Regions from separate parts of the Homo sapiens genome. Here all the other regions are linked to region 5. Evidence: fine-mapped expression QTL. A gene starts in region 5. Each other region holds a variant in brackets. All regions are shown on one strand. Distances are between the middles of the regions.

The links. PIP is the estimated chance that this variant, and not a neighbour inherited with it, causes the effect.
Region 1: its variant is fine-mapped to the expression of PLEKHG3 in lung (TOPMed, PIP 0.99).
Region 2: its variant is fine-mapped to the expression of PLEKHG3 in whole blood (TOPMed, PIP above 0.99).
Region 3: its variant is fine-mapped to the expression of PLEKHG3 in prefrontal cortex (BrainSeq, PIP 0.95).
Region 4: its variant is fine-mapped to the expression of PLEKHG3 in esophagus mucosa (GTEx, PIP 0.95).

The regions. Positions count from the first base shown.
Region 1 is chr14:64,650,516-64,655,616 of GRCh38, forward strand. No RefSeq gene overlaps it. Among named protein-coding and RNA genes, the nearest start is that of PLEKHG3, 51 kb to the right of the region's middle. The variant A/G (reference allele first, on the strand shown) is at 2,606.
Region 2 is chr14:64,730,563-64,735,663 of GRCh38, forward strand. It overlaps PLEKHG3 (pleckstrin homology and RhoGEF domain containing G3), which reads left to right. Exons shown (of 17, transcript NM_001308147.2): 5 at 80-126; 6 at 237-387; 7 at 476-607; 8 at 799-981; 9 at 1,152-1,244; 10 at 1,533-1,619; 11 at 1,865-1,898; 12 at 2,241-2,339. Among named protein-coding and RNA genes, the nearest start is that of PLEKHG3, 29 kb to the left of the region's middle. The variant G/A (reference allele first, on the strand shown) is at 2,408.
Region 3 is chr14:64,742,458-64,747,558 of GRCh38, forward strand. It overlaps PLEKHG3 (pleckstrin homology and RhoGEF domain containing G3), which reads left to right. Exons shown (of 17, transcript NM_001308147.2): 17 at 525-5,101. The coding sequence ends at 1,246. It overlaps SPTB (spectrin beta, erythrocytic), which reads right to left. Exons shown (of 36, transcript NM_001355436.2): 36 at 3,826-5,101. Among named protein-coding and RNA genes, the nearest start is that of PLEKHG3, 41 kb to the left of the region's middle. The variant C/T (reference allele first, on the strand shown) is at 2,632.
Region 4 is chr14:64,681,693-64,686,793 of GRCh38, forward strand. No RefSeq gene overlaps it. Among named protein-coding and RNA genes, the nearest start is that of PLEKHG3, 20 kb to the right of the region's middle. The variant A/G (reference allele first, on the strand shown) is at 2,335.
Region 5 is chr14:64,702,123-64,707,223 of GRCh38, forward strand. PLEKHG3 (pleckstrin homology and RhoGEF domain containing G3) reads left to right here and starts at 2,302. Exons shown (of 17, transcript NM_001308147.2): 1 at 2,302-2,582. RefSeq lists an enhancer at 581-1,082.

The DNA.
Region 1 (5,101 bases), 52 kb before region 5:
TTGCTCTGTTGCCCAGGCTGGAGTGCAGTGCCATGATCATAGCTCACTGCAGCCTTGAACTCCTGGGCTCAGGTGATCCTCCTGCCTCAGCCTCCCAAGTAGCTGGGACTACAGTTGCACCACCACACCCAGCTAATTTTTTTATTTTTATTTTTATTTTTGTAGAGATAGGGGTCTCATTATGTTGCCCAGTCTGGTCTCCAACTCCTGGCCTCTGGTCTCCAACTCCTGGCCTCAAGCAATCCTCCCACCTTGGCCTCCGAAGTGTTGGAATTACAGGCATGAGCCACTGCTCCTAGCCTGAAAGCTGTTGTTTTTATCCACCAGCTTCTCCCCCTCCCTTGCTACCTACCCACATTTGAGGGTTAGTGCAGGCCTCCTTCCCTTGGGGAAGGTGATCCTGATGAGGCTGCCAATCACAGTTCCCTTTCTTCCCCCTCACTTCAGCCCAAGAGGCAGGCATGAGACCCAAGCCTAGCCAATCAGAGCTCTTTATTGGGAGTTACGTCTTCTAAAGCAAGAAGTCCTCTCCCTCCTTAGGATGGCCAAACTGACATGATATGAGCCTAGAGCTGCCTGTAGCCATGTTGAGCCTAGCCCAGTCACAAATTCTGGGTCACTAAAGGTTAGTGAGAATCCTGATGACAACATATAAATATTTTTATTCTGTCCCTGCCCAACCTGTGGACACATGTCTGAGACCTAAGGAGAGAGATGGCTGTGAGTAAAAAGTGAGATCTCAGTAAAATCTCTACAGACCTCCAGGGCAAGGGCAGTGCATTGGAGAGGAGAGAAGCATCTTGCTACCACTTCAACATAGAGCAGCTCCAGCTTTGGTCCAGTGAGTTCTGCAGGGTGAATAGCTGGAAAGTGGGCCATGGCCCATGGGAGACTTTGGTGCTTGGCAGGGGCACGAGTTCCAGTGGCAACACCATCTCCTGGCAGGAGATGGTGGTATCTTGAAAACCATAGGAAGTACTGGGTGAGAGAGCAAAACAGCACTCAGGGAGAACAGTCTTGTACACACACACACACACACACACATACACGTGAGACTGGTCCCTCTTCTCATGATTCACAAACATACTTCTTATTTTTCTATGGGGGTGGGATGTGTGGGATGGTTGATTAACAGAAGATTGCAGGTATAGGTCTGGCTTCAGCAGATAAGGCAAGAGCCAGTGAAATCTGAGTTTTGGGGTTTTGTATGAGACAGGGTCTCACTCTGTCACCCAGGCTGGAGTGCAGTGGTACACTCACTGCTCACTGCAGTCTTGACCTCTTGGGCTCAAGTCAGTCATCCTCCTGCCTCAGCCTCCTGAGTAGCTGGGATTACAAGTGTGTGCCACCACACCCAGTTAATTTTTAATTTTTTTTGTAGATCTGGGGTTTTGCTCTGTTGCCCAGGCTGATCTTGAACTCCTGTGTTCAAGCAATCTTCCTGCCTCAGCCTCCCAAAGTGCTGAGATTAAGGGCATGAGACATCGTGCCCAGCCATGGAATCTGAGTGTTATTCTTGCTGTGTCCCCTATTGTTCCCATAGGCTGAGGTGGCCTGGGAAACTCAGGTTATATTTGGGTAACCTCAGTAAAGTTGGCCAACTAATGGCCAGTGTTTTGCTTATCTACTGCTGTGTAACAAATTACTCCAAAACATGGAGATTTAAGTAACAGTGAATATTTTTTATCTCTCACAGGTTGGGGATTTGGAAATGACTTAGCTGAGTGGTTCTGACTCAGGGGTCTCATGAAGCCATAGCACAATGTTGGTCAGGGCTGTAGGATCCACTTCTAAGTAGCCTCACTCACATCGCTGGCAAATTATGCTTGCTCAGGGAGTGGGGGTGGGAGCTCAGTTCTTCCCCAAGTGGACTTCTCCATGGGAAGGCTTGAGTATCCTCACAACATGGCAGCTGACTTACCAGAGAGCAAGTGATCCAACTGAGCAAGATGGAAGCCACAGTGAGGGTTATAGCATTGGAAGTTCAACTCTTTCTTTTCTGCAATATCCTATTATTACATAATTCATCCCAACTCAGTGTGGGAGGGGAAGACACAAGAGCATGAACATCAGGAGGCAAGGCTCACTGAGGGCTTTCTCAGAAGCCGGCTGCTACAGCATGGCATCATATTCAAAAGCAGCACCAGTTTGACATCCAAAAGCACTGAAAAGCCATTGAAGTCTCTACCGAAGAAGTATGGGAAGAAGGAAAGACATTGCAGAATGCCCAGTAGAAGTTCAAAAGTTCCTCTTCACTCTTCAATTTTCCCAGTTTTCTCATCACAGCAATTGCTTCCCCAAATCTCTTCTTTCAAACTAACTGAAATTTTCACATCTCTCCTGTTACCCCCTCGCCACCTCCGTTATATAGATCGAATCAACCTCTCCTGACTCTCCACCCTCCCACTTACCCTGAAGCCCCAAGAACCAGGTAGGCAATCACAGGCACTCCTGAGTGAGGCCTAGGAAGTGTAGGAAGAGGGAAGGCAGTGAAGAATGATATACTAACATTTTGTGTCAGTATCACATGTATATCCTAAGTGCCTAGTATGGTGCCTAGAATACAGCAGGTGCTCAATACATGTTGGTGAATTAATGGATAGAG[A/G]CATTTAACAAATTCTAGATGAAAATGCTGGTATTCAGTGGTAATAATATAGCAACAAGTTTCCATATGAAACACAAAAATGCTATGCTACTATCTTCTTTTAAAATGTCCATGATAGGCTGGGCATGGTGGCTCACGCCTGTAATCCTAGGACTTTGGGAGGCCGAGGCAGGTGGATCATTTGAGGTCAGGAGTTCGAGACTAGCCTGGCCAACATGGTGAAACCCTGTCTTTACTAAAAATAAAATTAAAAAAAAATTAGCCAGGTATGGTGGCACATGCCTGTAGTCCTAGTTACTTGGGAGGCTGAGGCAGGAGAATCGCTTGAACCCGGGAGGCAGAGGTTGCAGTGAGCTGAGATTGCACCACTGCGCTCTAGCCTGGGTGACACAGCAAGACTCCCACCTCCAAAAAAATCAAGAAATAAAAGTCCATGATAAGAATATGTAATGTTGCCATACACACGTGCATGCACACACACACGCACATACACGTGTGTGTGTGCGTGTGTGTGTGTGTGTGTGTGTATAGAGAGAGAGAAAGAGAGAGAGAGAGAGAGAGGGTCTTACTCTGTTGCCCAGGCTGGAGTGCAGTGGTGCAATCATGGCTTATTGAAGCCTTGGCCTCCCAGGCTCAAGTGATCCTCCCACCTCAGCCCCCTGAGAAGCCAGGACTACAGGCGTGTGCCACCATGCTTGGCTAATTTGTAAATTTTTTGTAGGGACAGGGTCTTGCTTGTTGCCCAGGCTGGTCTCAAACACCTGGGTTCAACCAATCCTTCCACCTCGACCTCTCAAAGTGTTGGGATTACAGGCGTAAGTCACCGTGCCTGGACTGTATATTTTGTGTGTGTGTGTGTTCTCTGAACAAGCTTCTTGAAAGCAGGATCTGTGTTTTATTCACCCTTATATCCCCAAAGCCTGGCAATGCCTGACTTGGAGTAGGCAGGAATTTTGTCAGTAATGTACTGAGCATTCACAACATGTGTCAGACACTCTTCCAGGGCTGATACGCATAGTAACTCTTAATTCTCATAATCACCTAATGCGGTTGGTTATATTATCATTTCCATTTTTTAGATTACAAAATGGGGCATGAAGAGGTTGAGTAACTTGCTGGAGGTTATGAAGTAAGAGCTGAGATTTAGACCAGGGCTGTTTTGTTCTAGAGCCCACGACCATCCTCTACCACATCTGCAGTGTTTGTAGAACTGAATTAAAGATGAGTGAGTAGATCTGTCAAACTTGTGCCAGGGAAAGCCCATAAGCTTACACCAGACACAGCTAGAAAGACATTGAGGAAGTCCTGGAAACCACCAGTGTGTTTTTAGGTGACTCATGGAGGCAAGAGAGCAAGTTGCAATGTCTCCGAGGGTAGTTGGTTTAGGAAAGGATGAAATATGTCAGAAAAATCTATGTACATAAATAAAACCAAGCAGCTGTGTTCACATTAAGATCCAAACGGAAACCCAGCTGAAGTAGGAGCCGTTGGATCTGTCCCACCAACCTGTTGTGAGCATGAGCTAGGTAAATATTTGGCTGATACAAGGTCCATCACAGGTTAATAGCTCTGGTCATTACCAAGCCTGGTTATGCTGGAATTGCATGTAGTCTCAACTGGACACTCATGTTTAAGCACAATTTAAAAAATCACCAAGGGAAACCAGGAAGCAACACTTCTATTTGGGAAGTCAACTAATGGAAAGTTTTCTAAAATAAGTAACACAGCTTCAGCTTCAGCAATGGGATTTGTGACATCCCTCCCGTGTCACAGTTAATGTCTACCTTGTTTAATACCACATAATAGTACTTTTAGCCTTCAGAACCTTGAAACTGCATAACTACTGGAACAGTTTAAAAAGAATGAGAACATAATGATTTCATACAGCCCATACGTTTCCCAAATAAGTAAAGGGAAGCTGACTTACGGCAATGAGAGGCGGTGTGGTAACCCGGAGAAACTAGGCTGTCGGTGGGACACATGGGTGTGAATCAGCTCTGCTACTTACATGCTCTGTGTGTCTCCGCAGGACACTTAACCTCTTTGAGCCTTACTTTCGTCATCTGGAAATCAAGAGGGTTGCCCTAGATAATTCTAAGGACCGGCCCAGCTGAAGGTTTGTGAGTGCATGAGAAGCCTGCGGTGGGTAAGGTTATGGTGTCAGCTTCCACGTGGTCTGCGTATACAGTGAAGCCCACGTGCCCTGCTCCATTTGGAGAGGCAGCTTGGCCAAGGTGTAGAATTGGAATCATCTGCATTGGAAGCTGCCTTTTGAAAGTGCTAGCAGTGTGCCCCAAGCGCTTGTTTTCTGATGGAGCTGATCTGCCCTGCCCAAGCACTAACTGGGAAGCTCTTACCCTTATTTTCCCTTTGCCCCAATTCCTTTAACTTTTTTTTTTTCTTTTTTTTGAGATAGAGTCTTGCTCTGTTGCCCAGGCTGGAGTGCAGTGGCATGATCTCGGCTCACTGCAAGCTCCGCCTCCCAGGTTCACACCA
Region 2 (5,101 bases), 28 kb after region 5:
CCAGGGGCCTATCTGCTACCACCATCTTTACTGTCAAATGAGAATCTCCCTGAAATCACTATTTTTGATCTCTTCTTAGAGCCAAGAGTTTGATATCTACACTCAGTATTGCAACAATTACCCCAAGTGAGTAATTGGGGTGAGAGGGAAGGCAGAGCCATTTGGTGAGTCCAGAGCCCCCCACTTCCTCATCCAGGCCTTCCCCAGGTGGTGACTGGCCCTTCTCCCACTCCCAGCTCCGTGGCCGCCCTGACGGAATGCATGCGGGACAAGCAGCAGGCCAAGTTCTTTCGGGACCGGCAGGAGCTGCTACAGCACTCGCTGCCCTTGGGCTCCTACCTGCTGAAGCCAGTCCAGCGCATCCTCAAGTACCACCTGCTGCTCCAGGTAGCCCCTCGGTCCTCCCAAGCACCTAGGGCCTGGGGAGGGCAGGGCCTTCGGGTCAGGGGCACCTAAGCGTCTATCTTCTGCGCAGGAAATTGCCAAGCATTTTGATGAAGAAGAGGATGGCTTTGAGGTGGTGGAGGATGCCATTGACACCATGACCTGTGTGGCCTGGTACATCAACGACATGAAGAGGAGGCATGAGCACGCGGTCCGGCTCCAGGTGCTCTGGGGCTGGGACGCTGGGGGAGGGGCAGGGCTGGGTGGGCCAGGCTTCCGCTGGGAAGAGGGACTGTGGCCACCCTGCTGGGATGAGCTGGGCAGTGGCATTGGGGGAGCCTTTGTGGCAGGGTTTGCAGAGCCTCCTAAGGCCCCAGTGGCCTGACTCTAGGGATTGGGGCCCCTCTGCTGCAGGAGATTCAGTCACTCCTCATCAACTGGAAGGGGCCCGACCTGACCACCTACGGGGAGCTTGTCCTGGAGGGCACATTCCGCGTGCATCGCGTGCGCAATGAAAGGACCTTTTTCCTCTTTGACAAAACACTGCTTATCACCAAGAAGCGGGGCGATCACTTTGTCTACAAGGGCAACATCCCGGTAACCAGGCCCTGCCCCATCTCCTCTGCCATCTTCTCTCCTTCCCAAAGGATCTGGGCTCCCCTTCTTGTCTGCTTCTTGGGGCTCCAGCACCACCCTTCTGAGATCACCCTCCCTGCTTCCCCAGGCTGTCAACCTTGTGCTTGACTGTCCTTTCCCTCTGCCCCTAGTGCTCCTCCCTGATGCTGATCGAAAGCACCAGAGACTCCCTGTGCTTCACTGTCACCCACTACAAGCACAGCAAGCAGCAGTACAGCATCCAGGTGAGGGGAAGGTGGGGCTCAGGGGCTAGGGAACAAGATGCCCAGGGGACACCTGCGTGGGACTCCTGGCTCCTCTGCTCACCTAGCTGCCCCAAGCCCCAGTGTCTCCATCTGTGAGGCAAGGATCATTGCAGGCACCTCTCAGGGTCAAAGTGAGGAGTCAGGTTAACCTCACAGAGGCCCCAGCATGGCCCCACTTTTTCTCCCTGGGTGGAAGCACTGTCCATGCTAGACAGCTTCAGGCCTGTAATGATAACCACTGGGTCCCTTTCCCTTGGGTCCTCCCAGGCCAAGACAGTGGAGGAGAAACGGAACTGGACTCACCACATCAAGAGGCTCATCCTAGAGAACCACCATGCCACCATTCCCCAGAAGGTGAGTTCCCCCAGCTCCTGACTGTGTGCAAGGAGAATGTGCTCCTCTGAGCCAGCTCTGCAAGGTCCATTGGGGGCTCACCTTCTGGATTTGGGCTCCAGTGGACAGTGAGTGTCAGTACAGCAGATGCCCCGGGCCTTGGTGCAGCACTGTGGGGTGTCCTCGTACAGCAACAGTGGGTCCTATGGGCAGGGAAGGCCGGCACATGGTAAGGTAATAACCAGGTGTGTTTCCTTCCCCTTCAGGCCAAGGAAGCCATCTTGGAAATGGATTCCTATTGTAAGTGTACCCTTTTCTGCCTGTTTTGTCCCTAATCGTGCACATTGCTAGGTCAGGCTGCATCCTGGGGAAGCTTTACCTGATAATTTTATTCCAGGAGCAGGGAGGGCGGGGGTCTCCTGTTAAGGGCTGGGGGGTGAACTACATGATTAAGGATGCTCTCCTGCTGAGCGGTGGGACTCTCAGTGCCTGAAGCTCCCAGCTGGAAGATGGAGGGAGCTCTGGAGGCTCCTGGCCCTGGAGCTGGGTGGGTATAGAGGTCTGGCTGGTTATGGACAGGGTCTAGGGTAGGCCAAGGCCAATTGGGAATCAAAAGCTTGATCGTCTCTCTCCTGGGTGCAGATCCCAATCGGTACCGCTGCAGCCCAGAGCGGCTGAAGAAGGCTTGGTCCTCCCAGGATGAGGTGTCCACCAATGTGCGCCAGGGGCGCCGGCAATCTGGTAAGAGAAGGGCTGTGGAGGCAGGAGGCCTCTCCCTCACACCCTTGCCCAGACTGGGGACCGTCTGC[G/A]GCAGTGTCCAGGGCTGTGGCTCTCACCTCTGCGGAAACCCTGGGAAAGGCTAGAGCGGGGCTGGACACACACCTGGGGCTCATCCTCTCCCTGTGCTGGTGCTCCCCACACCAGGTACCCCTGGGCCCTCGTTGCCTACCAGGTCTGGAGCCCACCTTTTTCTTACTTTTTTCTTTTCTTTTCTTTTCTTTTTCTTTTTTTTTTTTTTTTGAGAGATGGAGTCTTGCTCTGTTGCCCAGGCTGGAGTGCAGTGGCTCGATCTCGGCTCACTGCAACCTCTGCCTCCTGGGTTCAAGCGATTCTCCTGCCTCAGCTTGCCAAGTAGCTGGGACTACAAGCGTGCACCACCACACCCAACTAATTTTTGTATTTTTTAGTAGAGATGGGATTTCACTATATGTTGGCCAGGCTAGTTTCGAACTCCTGGCCTCAGGTGATCCGCCCGTCTCGGACTCCCAAAGTACTGGGATTATAGGTGTGAGCCACTGTACCCGTCCAGCCCACCTTTTTCAAGGCCCTAGGAATACTTGCTCGCTCCGGCCTTGGCACCCCTTCTTAGCCCCCTCCCTCCTTTGCCTCTCTGGAATACCAACACCAAGTCATTCAGGAGTGACACTTGGACATGGCGGATGGGCCCAGCCCAGTCCTGGAACAACCGAGCAGAAGCAGGACCCGGGGAAAACGAGTTCAGTGGCACCAAACCCAGACAGGAAATATTTATTTTGGGTCTCAGGAAAAGGTTCCATTTTCCTCCCTTGAGTTTTCTTCCATTCCTGGACTTGCTAGGGTGTTCTTGGATTATTGGAATGAATCGTCTATTTGAAAAGAGAAAACCTTGCTTTTATTCTAAACTCCGTGGTGATGGGTGTGTGTGTTTTCAAAATTGGTTTTTTCGTTGCTATTTAGTGCAAGGCCCAAGGACAGGTCTGGCTTAAGCCAGGTGTCTGCCAAACATATACCCAAGGTGGGAGTTGGGGTGAGAATTGTCTTTAAGACCCTGGGAGAGAAGGATTCTAAAGTGACTGAGAGTGGTGTCCTGGCTTGGGTCCCACAGATGTGTTGGGTTTTGATTGGTGATGACCTGTGGGTCCCCTGAATGTGTGTGTGGATTGACATGTGGGTGTTAGCCTTCGAGAAGGTGGAGCAGTGGCTTATAGAAGGCTTTTGTGGTTTTATGTTGTTGGTATTGCTCTGGGTGGATCTTGAGCCCTAGGCCACCTTGCTATGGTTGCAAAAGTTTTATGGTTTTTATAGTTAAAAGCTCCAAATAGGGGTGTTGCTTTCTTCTCTCTAGCCCTCTTTCTTTTCTCTTCTCTTCTCTTTTCTTTTCTTCTCCTGTAATTCTCTTCTTGTCCTCCTCAACTTGCCATACCTTAAAATTTGAAGCTTCTAGCACACTGATGTGTTCAGCAAGTGATAACGTTGGTGGTAGTGATAGTAGCTCTATCCTAGTGTTAGCATCGAAACTTTAGCTATGGATGTACAACTCTTTGAATATACTTAAAGCCGTTGAATTGTACACTCTAAATAGGTGAATTGTATTTGAATTATATTTCAATAAAGCTGTTACAAAAAGCCCCCAAACTTTAGGTGTCCAAGGCACTCAGGAAATGAGCCATTTTAAAGAGCTGAAGTTTCCACATGGCTGAGATTTTTAGCCTGTAAATACTAAGAGTTGGATTTTTTCAAAAAATATTTAAAAAATGTTTTAACAGTTATGAAATTCCCTCCCTCCCTCCCTCCCTTCCTTCCTTCCTTCTTTCCTTCCTTCCTTCCTTCCTTGTCTGTCACCCAGGCTGGAGTGCAGTGGCACCATCTCTACTCACTGCAACCTCTGCCTCCCGGGTTCAAGTGATTCTCCTGCCTCAGCCGCCCGAGTAGCTGGGATTACAGGCACGCGTCACCACGCCCAGCTAGTTTTTTTTTTGTATTTTTAGTAGAAACAGGGTTTCACCATGTTGGTCAGGCTGGTCTCGAACTCCTGACCTCAGGTGATCCACCCGCCTCGGCCTCACAGAGTGCTGGGATTACAGGCATGAGCCATCCCGCCTAGCTGAAATAGACATCTTTCTAAAGCATGTTTTGTACTCTTGAGCCTTTTAAAACAGAAGGTGCTGGCCACCGTTGAACCTTTCCTTTTCTGGAGTTAATGCTACAGCATCACTTAGGGTGTGTGAACTGCCAGATGCTTGAGGGGCCCCAGAGGCTGTGGGTTGCCATAGAGACAGCCTGTGTTTGGTGTGTCGTGCCCCTCTTCACGGTTCTTCTGTAACACTGAAGTATTTGTTTTCATTGGTCTAAGTATGCTTGTCTGTAGTAGCCCTTCTTCCCCTCCTGTCTGTTAGAAAGCGATCGTTCAGGCCAGGTGTGGTGGCTCACTCCTGTAATCCTAGCACCTTGGGAGGCTGAGGTGGGAGGATCACTTGAGTCCAGGAGTTCAAGACCAGCCTGGACAACACAGTGAGGCCTCATCTCTACAAAATTAAAAAGTTAGCTAGGCATGGTGGTGTGCACCTATAGTCCTAGCTACTCTGGAGGCTGAGGTGGGAGGATCACTTGAGCCTGGAAGGCAGAGGTTGCAGTGAATGGATATCGTGCCCCTGCACCCACCCAGCCTGGCTGACAGATGAGACCTTGTTGCAAAAAAACAAAACAAAACAAAACAAAAAAAGAAATCAATCTGTTGAACTTGT
Region 3 (5,101 bases), 40 kb after region 5:
ATGACAGAAGCGGCAAGTGGGCCCTTCCCCAAGTCTAGGGACTGAAGAGTCAATAAGGAGCCACTTGGCTCCTCGGGGAAAGTGACCTCTAAGGAGGCTCTACCAAAGGGAGAAGCTGGACCCTGGGCACTAAGGGCACAGGGTGAGCCCTGGCAGCCAGTCCAGTGCTCTGAGGCCAAGCTTGCTCTCTTGGTTAAGCCCTTTTGATGCCCTCTGCTCTGGCCCTTCCCATCCAGCAGAGGCTTCTGGAGGAAGCATGGCCCCAGGCCCCTCCTTTAGCAGGATGGGAGCAGAAGCTCTCCCCCTCTGCCTTTGACTCCTGACCCCTTTCCACTGCCTTTTCTTCATTCTTCCTATGGCCCTTCATGAAAGAGGCTGTGGATGGTAAGTGAGATTTCTCCCATCACACCCAAAACCCCAACAACCAGCCTTGCCTGGAAAGTGAGTTGGGGCCTGCTCAGAGCACCCCCTTGCAGCTCTGCCCTCCCGCCCCATGCTTCAGGCAGCTTGCTCTCTCCTCATAGGTAAGAGGAAGCCGGTGCTGTCTCTATTTGACTATGAGCAGCTGATGGCCCAGGAGCACAGCCCTCCCAAGCCCTCCTCGGCTGGGGAGATGTCACCACAGCGTTTCTTCTTCAACCCGTCTGCTGTCAGCCAGAGGACCACCTCGCCTGGGGGCCGGCCCTCCGCCCGGAGCCCCCTCAGCCCCACAGAGACCTTCAGCTGGCCCGACGTCCGTGAGCTCTGCTCCAAGTATGCCTCCCGCGATGAGGCACGCCGAGCAGGGGGCGGCCGGCCCCGCGGCCCACCCGTCAACAGGAGCCACTCGGTGCCGGAGAACATGGTAGAGCCACCTCTGTCGGGCAGGGTGGGCCGCTGCCGCAGCCTGAGCACCAAGAGGGGCCGGGGAGGCGGAGAGGCTGCCCAATCCCCTGGGCCTCTGCCCCAGAGCAAGCCGGATGGAGGCGAGACCCTGTATGTCACTGCAGACCTCACCCTGGAGGACAACCGGCGGGTGATTGTCATGGAGAAGGGACCCCTTCCCAGCCCCACTGCAGGGCTGGAGGAGAGCAGTGGCCAGGGACCAAGCTCACCGGTGGCCCTGCTGGGGCAGGTTCAGGACTTCCAGCAGTCTGCAGAGTGCCAGCCGAAGGAAGAGGGTTCCAGGGACCCGGCAGACCCGAGCCAGCAGGGCAGAGTGAGAAACCTTAGAGAGAAGTTCCAGGCCTTGAACTCTGTCGGTTGATGCTGACTCCTGGGGGAGGGAGGAGTCATGTTGGAGGTTGGGGAAGAACCTGGGCATCCTTCCCCTCAAGCCTGGGCTCATGGAGCCCCTGCCCAGGGCCCTCAGGTGGGCGGAAAGTCCATCCCCTCCGCCCTTCAGGAAGGATGCTCCCGTGTGCAGGGGTCTCCTGCCTGTGCCATCCACTGGGGCTCGAGACAATTTCCCACTCACCTGTGAGGCCGGTGTGGCTGCTTCCCTTGTAAATAGTTGTTCTCTGGTAAGAAGCCAAATATTTAAGCTCACTTCTTCCCAGAGAGAGGAAGCTCTGCTCAGGCCTCCAGCGTTGGCTGGCCATGGCCACAGCCAGATGGAGGAGCCCATCCCCAGGAGACTCAGGCAGTGGCCTGGAGAGGCTTTGTTCTGTAACGGTGCCTTTTCTTAGGGTCCAGGCAGGAATGAAGCCAATAATTTATTGCTTTCCATTCTGTGGTATGATGTGCGTGTGCGTGAGTGTGTGGCCCCTGTTTATTCCCCTCCTGTCAAGAATGAAGTGGATTCAGTTCAGGTACTTTTGAGGGTTGTTGTGCTGACCCTGTGGTTGTCGCTGATGTACACACATTTCATTATTTGCCAATGGTGCAATAACCACTGCTGACCAACCCACTATGTGTGAACTCCTTCCTAGGCTTGGCTGGGGTAGGGAAGGTTATTCATGGGCCAGGGATGTCTTAGGGAGATGGAGACATGGAGGTTGTTCCTTCCACACTCAATTGTCACTTGGGCTTATGAAACATAAGGCACCCGGGTACTGGTGGGGGAGGTGGGGCAGGAGGATGTGAGGGCGGGCTTTTTCTTTCTGCTGCCTAGACTCCCATGGGCTTCTCTGTCTAGCAGCAGCCTGCTGTCCTGTCTAGGGTAGGGGGTCCCGCATGCCAGCCTTTTGCTCTTTTCCCCAAGGGCCAGAGTTGGACCAAGAAAAAGGGAGGTGGTGAGGTGGATAGACTGTTTTTCTCATAAGCAGATGCTCCCAGTATCTGGTGCCTTTTGCGTTTCTCTCCGGTCCCCAGGAAACATCCTAGAAGACAAGGATTTTTTTTTTTTTTTTTTTTGAGACAGAGTCTTATTCTGTCACCCAGGCTGGAGTGCAATGGCGTGATCTTGGCTTACTGCAACCTCCGCCTCCCAGGTTCAAGCAATTCTCGTTGTCTCAGCCTCCCAGGTCGCTGGGACTACAGGCATGAGCCACCACACCCAGCTAATTTTTTGTATTTTTAGTAGAGACGGGGTTTCGCCGTGTTGACCAGGCTGGTCTCGAACTTCTGACCTCAGGTGATCCACCCACCTCGGCCTCCCAAAGTGCTGGGATTACAGGGGTGAGCCACTGCATGCGGCTGAAGGTAAGGATT[C/T]TAAACTCGGAGACTAGAAATGTCCTAAAGGTGTCTGCAACATTGGATGAGGAGTACAAGTGCATTTTTCTGGGATGATTCCTCCCTTTTTATCACATTCTCAGAAGTATCTTTGATTCAGAAGAGTTAGGAATGCCTCCCTATTTCAGTTGGGTTTTCTGCCCTTTCTCCACAGAGGTCCAGACTCATTTTGCTTAATTTTTTTTCTAGCTGGGGCCTGGGAGGTAGAGGCTTCAGGGCCTGGGTGGTAGAGCTGCCTGACAAGTGTTCAGCAGGGCTGCTGGGTCAGGGCCCTGTGGGCCTTCTGACCCAACCTGAAGATGGGTCTGCTAAGTCTAACAAGGTCAAGGGAAGATCAGAGGGACCCAGATTCTTTTTTATCCCCCACTTGAAACGGAGTCTTGCTCTGTCGCCCAGGCTGGAGCGCAGTGGTGCAATCTTGGCTCACTGCAACCTCCGCCTCCCTGACCCTCACACTGTCCAGTGCCCTTGTGGTTACTCAGCATCATATCTTGAGACTGGCCTGGCAGGAGCCAGTGACTGTGGAATGACCACAGAAGATTCAGGGCAGCTGCCAGACCAGGGGCTATCTCTGCCCTGCGCTGCTTCTGCTCAAGAGAGGTTGTCACTAGCCTCTGATCTTCCCTTGAAGAACCCGACTGGGGCTCTTCAGAGGGTGGGGCCCAGGAAGTTGTAGTTAACCCCTTCCCCAGGCAGTCCTTACACGGCCATCTAGGTATGCCTGGGAACCTTGCACCAGGTCGGTGGTTCTCACTGGCTGCCCATTGGAATTATCTGGGGAGCCTTCTGGAAACGCAGTGCTTACATTCCATCTCCCTAGACCAACAGAAACTGCCCTCTGGAGGTGAATCCCAGGCTTAGAGATTCTGATGATTCTGCGGTCCAGTGAGTGCTGAGATCTGTCCTGAGCTCTGTGGGGAGGGGCCTGGACTGATCACTGCTTGGAAATGATTTTGCCCTACAGTAGGCCTTCAAGTTGATCAAATGCATGAATGAGCAAGCTTTTCTTGGAGTTTGTGATGAAGCCCAGGAACCGGGTGCTTGCAGTCGTCCCATAAGGCTCCCAGGGACAAGCTAGAGAATCTGGCTGTCCCTCTGTCTCCATGGTGCCAGCCCTCTTAGGCTCAGTTCAAAGGGAGAGGAGGCTAGTTAAATAAGAAACTGAGAGAAACATGGAGCATTATTGATTTATTAGAAAAACTAGTAAATGGGTTTCCTCTGGTTGGTGGAAGCACGGTTGAGCAGGTGGAGGACAGGACCCAGCTGGCCCCAGGGCCAGCCCCAGATTGCATGGTCTGTGCCCAACAGGGTTGCATTCCTCTGCAGCCGCCGCCTCCTCATTTCCTCCCTGAGCTTGTTTGTCCAAGCCACCAAGCCATGTGGTCCCGCTGGCTTCATCCTCCTCTGGATTCCTGCCCCCCTCCCATGAAGGGAGGAAGAGGATTCAGGGTCAGCCTAGGGGACCCTGGCTCCCTCCGATAGGCAGGAAGGAGGAGGGATGCGGAGGAGAGGCTGAGCCTTCCACGGGCCTCCTGTTAGGGGTGTTGGTGGAGGCCAGGTTGGGGAGGGAAGCCTAAGGACCCTCCACACCTCCCACAGCCAGAGTCAGTTGAGGCTGGGACAAAGGGGAAGGAGAGAGGGAAGGAGGACCGCCTGACCTTGCCCAGAAGGAGCTTCCTCTAAACTGCCCTGGGAAGGAAGCCTGGTATGCTGGTGTGGACTGGAGCTGTGTCAACCTCGTTTGGGAATACTGTCAAAAGACTGTAGAGTAGAATAAGGAGAGAAAAAAAAAAAAAGACCTTGCTAGGGCACTGGGAGAGCTTAGCCCTGGTGTGGCACACACAGGGTCTCCCAAAGCTGGATGCCTGCATTTTCAGTCTAGTTGGTCGAATGTCTTGGAGCCTGGGTGACAGGAGGGATGTGTGGGGAGCTGGCAACAGAATGGTCACATGCAGCTGGCTGCCCTGGACCAGGCCAGGGGACCTGGGGTGGTGAGATGCTAGCTCTTCCACTAGAGCCCTTCCTTTCTCGGGTCTGTGGAGTTGCTTGCTGGAAATGCCTCACTTCAGGTGCTGATTTGGCACACGTGGAAGGGGGAGGGTGGGCCCTTGTCCCTAGGCTCCCTAAAGACTGGCCCAGGGAAACAGTTGAGGGAGATGTTTGCCACCATCTGCCCTTCAGCAAGGAACCTGCTCTCTGCCCCAGAGGAGGACATGCCTGCAAGTGCACCAAAGGCCTACTTTATTGCTAGGTGAGTGCAGTCACCTCACTGCCTTGGTTTCCCCAGATACAGAAAGAGGCTGGTGAGTGATACACACTAGGTTCCCTGTATAGGGTCATATGTACCAAAGCCAAATGAAGACCTTGCTCACCAGGGCGGGAACCTGGGGATGTCAGGCTCCATCGGATGACGTCTTCCTTCCTGTGGCTCCTGCCTGCTGCAGTTGGT
Region 4 (5,101 bases), 20 kb before region 5:
GCCTGGACAACAGAGTAAGACTCTCAAAATAAATAAATAAATAAAAATAAAGAATAAATTACCAAATGTGGCTAGTGGCTGCCGTATTAGACAGCACAGGTCTGGAAGGCGGGGGAGGCTCAAATGGACACGCCCTGTTGGCTCTGCTGACTTCATCCCAAGAGGAAGAGGGAGGCTGGGGGAGGACCAGAGTGGGGCTCCCAGGGCCTAAGGAAGATACTAGAGAGGGAAATGAGCCTGTCTCAGAAGGACACTGCCATATAAGGCTTTGTTCCTGGTGGGAGGAGCCCTCCAGATGTCTGAGGAGAGGGAAGCTGAGGGCCGGGGGCAGGGGGAGGGGGAATGATTTAAGGGCACCCCCAAAGAAGTCCTCCTGAGATTTCTTTTGAGACGGCGTCTCACTCTGTTGCCCAGGCTGGAGTGCAATGGCACGACCTCCTGAGATTTTTACAGGGACCCGTTTCACATAAGAGGTCTGCTTTGGTAGTTCAGGCCTGCAAGGACTGTGGGTCTTGGCAGAGAGAGGAGGCACTGTTATTTTTTCTTCTGAGGCCATGTGAACGGGGCAGGCCGTGTGCATAGTTTCCATGGCATAATCTGACTATAAAGCCCTGTGTGTCTGTGGGGGAGGGACAAGGAGAGGCCCTCGGCCCAGCCTCAGTCAGAGCTGGGCATGGGCCCAGGAGGCACATTCCCTCCCAATTCCTGCAAGGTCCCGAGCCGTGGGCAGGGCAGGGCTGGCCGGAGCTCTGGAAGCTCATTTGGTTGCTGACTGGGGTGAGGGTGTTAGCTCTTCCAGATGCCAGGACATGAGACAAAGGAAAGGTAATCTCCCAAGAACTGGGCCAGGCTGAGGCTCAGGCAGAACACAGGATGTGAATTCACTGGGAGGCACAGCAAAGGCAGGCGAAGGAAGGCCTCCTTGTCTGCACCTGGCTACTGCCTCCTACCTGCAAAACAGAAGCTACTGCCAGGCTGGCCGGGGCCCAGCCCTGAGGAGGAAACTGAACAGGATCATTCGCCTAGAGTGATTGTCAGCGGGTTCACCAGACACCTTTCTCTGCTGGAGAAAGGATGCCTCTAAAGAAAAGAGGCCACTCTGTTAGCCTCTCCAAAACTGCGGCTTCCTGGACAGAAGTCAGGGATGCAGAGCACAGGCTAGTATTTATTAGGCAGCTACTAGGTACCAGGCTCTGTGCTAAACATTTTGCTTTTCTAATTTATTTGGAACAATATAGATTAATAATCATTATGACAGCTAATATTTCTTGAGTGTCTACCAGGGATCTGACATCAATTCCTTTAATCCTCCCAAACCTCCCTATCTATGGGTTGAGGGAAACTATGCCTTATCTGCAATTTTGCTATAAATCACCCAGCCAGCGAATGCCCCAGTGGGGATTTGAACTACACACCATCTCCTCATAACCACTGATTTTCCTGACAAATCCTGGCTGTAGATTCTGTGACGCCCTATGCCAGGGTCTTTGAAAAAGTTCCTACCGCTCCGAATTACCCATTTTGTCCCAAAGCCCCCACCTCGGCCTGCTTCCCGTTTCTGCCCTGGCTCCTTGGGGCCTCTAAGACTGGAGTCTCAAAGCGGCTCTGTCCCTAGAGGGTGGTTGTCCCTTCGCCCGCTCTGGGTTTGTTATGACGTACTGGTCGGCAGCCCCAGGCCGCAGAGGTTGCCCAAGACAATCATGCTTTTCTGAGAGGCAGGCTGTGCTGCGAGTCTCAGGCCGCAGCCGCACACACAATGCCCTCTGTCTCCGCTGGGGCAGAAAGGCGCATTATTGCGGGTCAGGTGACTCTGGCTCCACTGGCCGTGATGTTTGTGCTCCACATCTCCCACGAGGCACCTCCCCACGATGGCAAGCATGGCCAGGGGCTGGGCAGGGAGGGGGCACAGGGGCACTCAGGGCCTGGGTGTCCCTTCCCCTGGAGGTCCCTGCCTCACTTCCCCTATCAGACCTGTCCCTCACCCTCCATCCCCACCTGTAGGTCCTTCCCCTGGGTCCCAGGTCTCCCTCTCCTAAGCCTTTTGAGTGCTAGAATTTATTTATTTACTTGTGACAAGGTCTCACTCTATCGCCCAGGCTGGAGGGCAGTGGCATGATCTCAGCTCACTGCAACCTCTGTCTCCTGGGTTCAAGCGATTCTCGTGCTCAGCCTCCCCAGTAGCTGGGACTACAGGCATGTGCCACCACGCTCAGCTAATTTTTGTATTTTTAGTAGAGACAGGGTTTCACCATGTTGGCCACGCTGGTCTCAAAGTCCTGACCTCAAGTGATCCGCCTGCTTTGGCCTCCCAAAGTGCTGGGATTACAGGTGTGA[A/G]CCACTGCGCCCGGCCTAGAATTTAAATTCCTCTGGGAAAGCACACAGCACCGTGCCTGGCACAGTATGCCCTCCACAACATGGCTTTCTCTTCTGTTTTCCTCTTCCAGTTTCTCATGTTTGGACTTTGTGCAGGTTGGAGATAATTTTGTCATCAGGAATTTTGACAGAGACCCTGAAAACAGCTGTGTTCTTAATAACAATAACAGCCACAGTTTACTAAGCCCTTAGCATGTGGCTGGCAGTGGGCCAAACCCATGGAATCCTCACAACAGGCCTGGGAAGGCGATGCTCTTCCCAGTCCCACTTTAAGAAACAGAGGCTCCTAGCACTTGAGTGACTTGCCCAGGGCGGTGACGCTGGGTGGTGGAGCTGGATTCAGACTCAGTTCCATGCTCCTGACCGGTGTGCTATCGTGCCTGTGTTACTTTCTCAGGGACGTTCTAACAAGCCACCAACATTGGGTGGCTTAGAACATTTACTGTCCCATAGTATGGGAGGCTTGAAGTCTGAGATCAAGGTGTTGGCAGGGTTAGTTCCTTCTGAGGGCTGTGAAGGAGAATCTGACCCAGGCTGCGGGTACACATTCACATGTTTTATTTCACATAGCCACACACATACATGTTTACACACAGTTGTACACATGTGCTTACACAACCACACATACATGCTCTGACCCAGCTTTGGGCGCTTGCTGGCCATCTTTGCTGCTCCGTGGCTTGCAGATGCATCACCCCATATCTGCCCTTATCTTCATAAGGTGTCCTCCCTATGTGTGTGTCTCGAAGTCTAAATTTCCCCCTAAAATTAGGACATCAATCGTACTGGATCAGGGCCCACCCTAACAACCCCATTTTAACTTGATCATCAGCAAAGTCCCTATTTTCAAATAAAGTCACACTCACAGGTACTGGGAGTTAGGACTTCAGTATCTTTTGGGGGGATACAATTCAACCCACAACAGGGCCCTTCCCTGCTTTGTACCTTTGTGGCTTGGGCTTTCTTAGGAGCATTAAAAGGAAGTGGTGCGGCCGGGTGCTGTGGCTCATGCTTGTAATCCCAGCACTTTGGGAGGCTGAGGAAGGCAGATCACAAGGTCGGGAGTTTAAGACCAGCCTAGCCAACATGGTGAAACCCCATCTCCACTAAAAATATAAAAAATTAGCTGGGCGTGGTGGCATGTGCCTCTAATCCCAGCTACTCAGGAGGCGGAGGCAGGAGAATTGCTTGAACCCGAGAGGTGGAGGTTGCAGTGAGCTGAGATCAAGCCACTGTGCTCCAGCCTGGGCAACAGAGCAAGACTCTGTCTCAGAGGGAAAAAAAAAAAAAAAAAGAAGTGATGCTACCCTCAGCTCCAAGGGCAAGATAAGCCCCTTTCCAGGACTCCTTGCACTTGTTCACACAGTATACACACACACACACACACTCACATGCACTCACACACAGAGGTTCAGTAGCCTGGCAAGAACATCAATGCTCAGGATAGATGCTGAACTGCCACATTAACATCTGCATTCCATGGAGACAGTGGAACATCTGGCCAACATGAGGCATGGAGGGTGCCAGGTGCTCCAGCAGGATGAAGAGGAAACTGCCAGCAGTATAGACACTCGCCTTCCCAGCACAGCAGTTTGCACCAGACCACAACAAACCCACTCAAAATATTCTCCACGTCCCCTCCAATCCCCATACCTTCCCTCTATGCCTGCCCACTCCACCATCCCTTCCCTAGGCCTGGGCCCTCCCCACTCTCTGAGGTGGGAGAGGCTGGGGGCTGTGTCTCTGCAGCTCTAGCGTTTGTGTAGGAGTTACTACTTGTGGAGCATGCAGCGCAGAGGGAAACAGCTTGCCAGTGAGACGCAGACACTTCCATCTCCACCTCCAGCTGCACCGAATCAGCTTACATGGTTAATGACTGTTCCTGCTGGGGCTCACCGGACCAGCCCCTACTGTCTGCTGTGGGTGGGTCCAGGAAAGGCCTCCTCCAGGGGTAGCAATGCTGTACCCGAGCTCTGGGCCTGGTGGGTACTTGCCCTGAGGACTTCAGACCCAGGCATGGTGGTGCTCCTCAAGCGACCAGCACCTTGGGCCTTCTCTCCAAGCTCCAGGCCCAGCTGCACTCCAGGCCTGCCCCTGCCTCCTCTCCTCCCCCTGCTCCTGCTCCCACGGCTTTTTGTCTCCTCAGGGGCTCCTCCACCTCTGCAATTGGTTTCTTCCAGGCCAGGCCTCCCAGGCCTCAGGTGCACATCCACACATGCTTTATTTCACATGGTCTCACACATACATGTTCACACGCATTCATACACATGTGCCTTACACAACCACACATGCATGCTCATACACACGCACACACACTTTACACAGTCATACACGGTGTTGACACACTCACATGTGTGCTTTACATAGTCACACATTCACACACATGCTGTATAGTCTTACACGTGCATATTCACACACACGTGTGTTACACAGTCACACACAGTCACATGCTCACACACACTCACACAGGCCTGCATTCTCGCACATGTGCACACATGCACTTAGGTACTTACGTTATTTCTCTAAGTCTGCTTTCTTAGTTGGAACATGAGGATAATTTATTTTCCCATACCCATTTCACAGAGTTGCTAAACTGAAAAAGAGAGTTGAAAGATATCGACTGGCATAAATGAGGCATTTGTTATTATTTATTACAAAATTCAATTTTATTTACATTTAAAAATATGGCCGGGTGCAGTGGCTCATGCCTGTAATCCCAGCACTTTGG
Region 5 (5,101 bases):
TAATAATAATAAATGATTTAATAGCAGGGTGAGGCCATTGCAACAAGAACTGGTAGGAAGAGGCTCCGAGCTGTGGAGGGGCTGCAGCCTGGAGCCCCTGGCCCTTGACACAGGGTTTTATTATCGGAGGAGAGACTGTGCGATTTCTCACAAACTCTTTAGATTGTTTCAGTTGAATTCAGCATTGTTTTACTGAGTGCTTCCTATATGACTTCTACCACAGGGAGATTACAATCTTTTTAGGAAGTAGGTGATATAAATTAAAACAATTATTAATAGAAACAATATATTATAATCAAGTGAATTGGGCATAACAAGTGTCAGAAAGAAACTGGAAGCAGTGATGGTGAAGGGCAGAATTCCCTGTTATGACTTCCAGGTCTACCACCCACTAGCTGTGTGACTTTGCCTCAGTTTCCTTTTCTGTTACTGCAATTGTTTTTGTAAAGTACTTAGAAGAATGGCTAATACATAGTAAGCACACTCATAGTAAGCACACACCCATCTAGGCACTTGCCCGACACTGCTTTTGCTGGTTGTGTAATCTTTGCCAAGTTGCTCCTTGCCCCTAAGCCTCAGTGTTCTGTCTGCAAGATGGGGATTAGGATATCTCCTACCTCGCAAGGTGGCTGTGAGGATCCAGGGACACAGTTTGTTAAGAGTGTAGCACAGGCCCTCTGCATGGTAAGCATTCACTAAAGGACAGTTATGACTGCCACTAACACTGTAACGTGTCCTGGCTAAGGAGTGAAGGGTCGCTCACAAGTGGCTAAGTCAGGGGGCTTCTTTGGAAGCTGGAATTTGAAGCGGACCGGAAGGCATTCGTAAGATTCAGGTGATCAGATAAGAAAGCATAAACAAAAAAAGGTGAAAGCCTGAGGTTGGAAGGGGTGACCACAAGTCCTGGAAGGCCAGAAGGGGGACTTGTCACTTCTCCCCTGGCCGGCGGGGTCTAGCGGAGCCCCAACTAAGTTGATCTATTTCCGAGCCCCTCTTCTGCAATCTCTGCTCTCACCTTCACGGTCCGCGAGTCTGGGGCTCTGCAAGCCTCCAACACACCCTCCCTCCCTAAGGAATGTGGGCCCCGCTTTCTGGGCCTGCCAGACCGAGCGCCTACCGCTTCCTCCGCAGGCAGGAGCCGGGACGCTGCCTTCACCCCACCCTCCGCCAGGATCCAGTTTCAAAGTCACCTGAAAGCCATTTCCTTCCGCGCCTGCCCCGCCTCTCCCCTCCCAGTAGATCACCTGGAGCTTGCATTTGCCCAGAGCAGCATTTTGGGGCGGGCGCTTGTTTTGTTTTAAATGATACCTCTAGAAATCGTTTGCTGTACACCTGGATAACAAATATACCCCGTGGTTCTAATATCAGCGTCCTATTCCTCCTCCCAAGGAACTAGTGATAGCGCCTAACCAGTGGGCGTTGTTCCTCTTCCGGAGCCCCACTCTGGGCTTCCCTCCTCCGGGCTTGTTGTTCTTCAGGATCTTTACTGATGAATTATTATGGGTTTTTGGATTTATGCTCTTGCTCAAAATGTATTGAATGTCTCTGTCCCCCATCCTCACCCCTTGCCCCCCAGTTTCCAGGTGTGTACCTTTCCATGCATACACGGTCATATACAGAGACATAAAGACAAACGGTTCTCTTTGTTTTATAAAAACGGGTCCTCTATCATCCAGGTTTCTGTGTTTTATTTTTCCTATTTAACAGTTCCTTGTGGAGTTGCCTTCACGTTGTCTCCTTTATCTCTTTCCCGTCAGCTTCTCAGAGGTCTGCATTTACCACTGTAAAGCGTCACAGGGACCGAGTTATGGTGAGGAATTCAAGACATGCCTTTCTGACTTGGAAAAGCGGACACGGCCGGCTCTGGTAGGATTAGGATCCCCAGATCGATCCCGGCTGGTCACTCACTTGGGAAAGCCCTCAGCCCCCTTCGCAGGGCCCGGTGTTCCCTGTCCATACAAGGGGTACGTTCTGGCAGTCCATGCTGTCTCGGGAGGCGGTGATAGCAGGTCTGTGACACCAGGGTGACCCCACCACGTGCGTCTTGGTATCCTAGAGCATCTAGGCTGCCCGGGGGTGCGCGCTCATCACCCTGCGGGCGTTAATCGTTAACCGCGCCCAGGCCTCGCCGCCGCCGCAGCCTTACCCCGGCTCTGGCTCGCCGCGCCGCGAAGGTTGCCCCGGCCCCCGCAGAGCCGCCAATTGCTGGACTGCAGCCGCGAGCTGGAGTCTCCACCCACAGGAAAAATTCCTGGCCCGCCCCTCCCTCGCTCCCTCGCTCCCTCGCTCCCTCGCTCCCTCGCTCCCTCGCTCCCTCGCTCCCTCCTGCCCTCCCGCTGCAGCTCCGGCTCCGCTCGACTTCCTGCCGGGCGCTGGCAAGCCGCGCGCTGCCTGGGGTCTCCGGGGGCCGCGCTTGCAGCTGGCCGAGTCCGGGCCAGCTGAGGGGCTGGCGGTGGGCGGGAGCGGTCGGCGGCCTCAGCCCCTTCAGAGAGCGACTTTCAAACTCGCGCCCGCGTCGCGGCAGCACCTGGGCAGCCCCGCACGCCGTGCGCGTCCCGAGCCCGCGGGGCAGCTACCGCTCGGTGAGTGTCCCCTGATTCTCCTCTCTCCCCTCTTATCTCCCTGCATTAGGCTGAGCGGCGGTGCCGGCAGTCACGCTGGGGCCCCAGTCCCTTCGCGGCCCCCGTGCCAGCCCCCTGCGGGGTGAGGACCGGGGCGACCGAGGAGGGCCTGGAACTGTGTTGGCTGCTTCCCGGGCCACCCTGCCGCAGAGTGCGCGAGCGCAGGAGGGTCGTATGGGGAGACTTTTTCTGTCTTTTTTTCCCTCCACTCCGGAAACAAAAGGGGCAAATGCGCCGGGCGGCTCCAGAGAGGCTCAGTTTGAAATCCAGGAAGCCCGCGAGGCCGCGCGCGCCCGAGGGCTGGTGTTTGGCTGGAGCTGTGGGCCTGGCGGGTGGACCCTTCTGCGCGAGGACCCGAGCCTCGGCTCCTGCCAGCCCCGGAGGCGCCTGCAGCCTGTTCCGGGTTGGCGCCGCACGGTGCTCGCTGTTGGGAATCTCGGCTACCTGTCCGGCAGGGAGGAGAGTGGGGGCCAGAAGCGGGGAGCGGAAAGCCCGGCCACCAGCTGCCTCGACCTCGTCCACTCCTGAAGTCGGTTTGGTTCTTCGCACCCCTACACCCAGCCCTTTGGTTTGGAAAGCCAGTATAAGGCGTGCAAGCTTAAATTTTTAAGGCGTTAAATAGCTACTTTGACTCTTCGGGGCGCCTTTGGAACACAAAAGGAAGAACGGAGGGGAGAATGGAATGGTTGGAGGCTGGAGAGGTGTGGCTTTTGGGGAGGGTGTTGTTAGAGGCCGCGAAAGAGTTTGATCCTCGAGGTCACTCGCTAATCTGTTGGCATATGTAGGTGCCTGTCCCCTGCTCTGGGGGCCCCAGCAGGAGACCCACACTGCGTTCACCTTACGGGGAACCCTGGAGTGGGGGTTCCCAGAGTCTCCCCAGCCGTGCCTCTGCACGCAGCCCAGTCACATGGCCCTTGCTCAAGAAATAATAAGCAGGGAGGGCAATGACAGTCCGGAGCGGGGGAGGGCCTCCCCGTTGAGCACATCGGCCACCTCGCCTTCAGCAGTGTGGTTTTCCGGGCCATCCTTTGTTGGACAAGGATGGGATCCTGAGTGATTAAACCCCAGCTGTTCCCCAGGAGGAAACTAGGGAGTGAGAACCAAAAGTGTACATTTATCTCTCTGTTATACATCTCTCCCCTGTGGTTCCGGGCTGGCCCCCTGGATGCAATGGCCTCACTTCTCCTTTCGACACCTGCTGTCCTCCACTCCCTTCCTGGAAGATAGGACAACCCATTAGCTCCCTGGGTAACTTGCCCTGGGGATGGGGCAGGAAGTTGGGGGAAGAGGTACCCAGAGGCCAAGTCCTAGCTGCTGAGGGAGTGATTTGTTGAAGAGCTGCTTTGGGGGCTTTTCTACTGCCTTTTATTAGAAGTGGCATGGCAGGGGAAGTGGAAAGAGCACTGGCCTGATAGTCCAGCACGGGTTTATGCCTGAGTTTTAGACCTGGCTCTTCTGCATAGCATGGAAGATTGGTAGAGTTGAAGAGTGCGAGTCACTTGGGCTGGGGGGCCCCTTGGATTAGCCTACTTCATTTACTCGTGAAGGCAGCAGAGCCCAGAGGGGTGAGGTGATTTCAGCCTTAGACCCTATTGGCCAAGTAGAAACCAGAGGTCAGATGTCCTCATTGTCTGATCTGTGTTTTCTCCAACATGATCTGGCCAATTCACTTATCTTTTCTGACTCAGTTTCCACATAAATAAAGTGGGATTACTTGCCTGCTCTTCCTCATAGGAGCTGTGGTGAGGATCAAAGGAAGCCTCATTTGTGGAAAGTGCTCCATAAACTCCTGTTAAAACTAAAGGGCTCACAGTGGCTCGGGAGGGAGTCTCCCAAGGGTTTTACAATTTGCTGGCTATGTCCCACGTGTGTGCCACAAGGAGACGTTAGATACCAGGAGCCATTGTTGGATGTTTAAAACACCCTGGTCTTAATATCTCAGCCCCAGAGTAAACATTTGCCTTACCAAATCCGCAGCTATCCCACGGTCACTGTTTACGCTGGAAGAGGCCAAAGGCCACGGCCTGCGGGATGACCAGGGCTGGAGGGGGAAGGCTCCTCTGTTGCAGAGGTATGCCTTGCCCGTTCTCTTCTCCCAGCTCCCAGAACCTTGTGAAGGCTCCAGCTGTAAGCCAGGGGTGCTGCCACAAGCCCAGGCCGCCCTGGCCTTGGAGGGTTAAAAGTGAAGCCCTCTGGCTATTCTCTGTTGTGTTGGGGGTTGCAGGGACTCTGGGAGGGTGTTGCTTTTGCAGCTGCACTGAGGGCTGTCTTCAGCTCCTCATCTGTGCCCCCTCCCCCATCTCAGGCCGCCCCTCTGGCCCAGGCCACTGCTCTGTCCCGCCTCTCTGGCCAGCTGCAAGTCCACAGGCCTTTGTTCCGTGGCTGCAAACCCGCCCTACTCCATCCTCCCTCCTCAGCAGAAGCCCTCCAGCGGGGGCCCTGGCAGCTGGAAATCACAACTGCCAGGAGGAAGGGGCTAC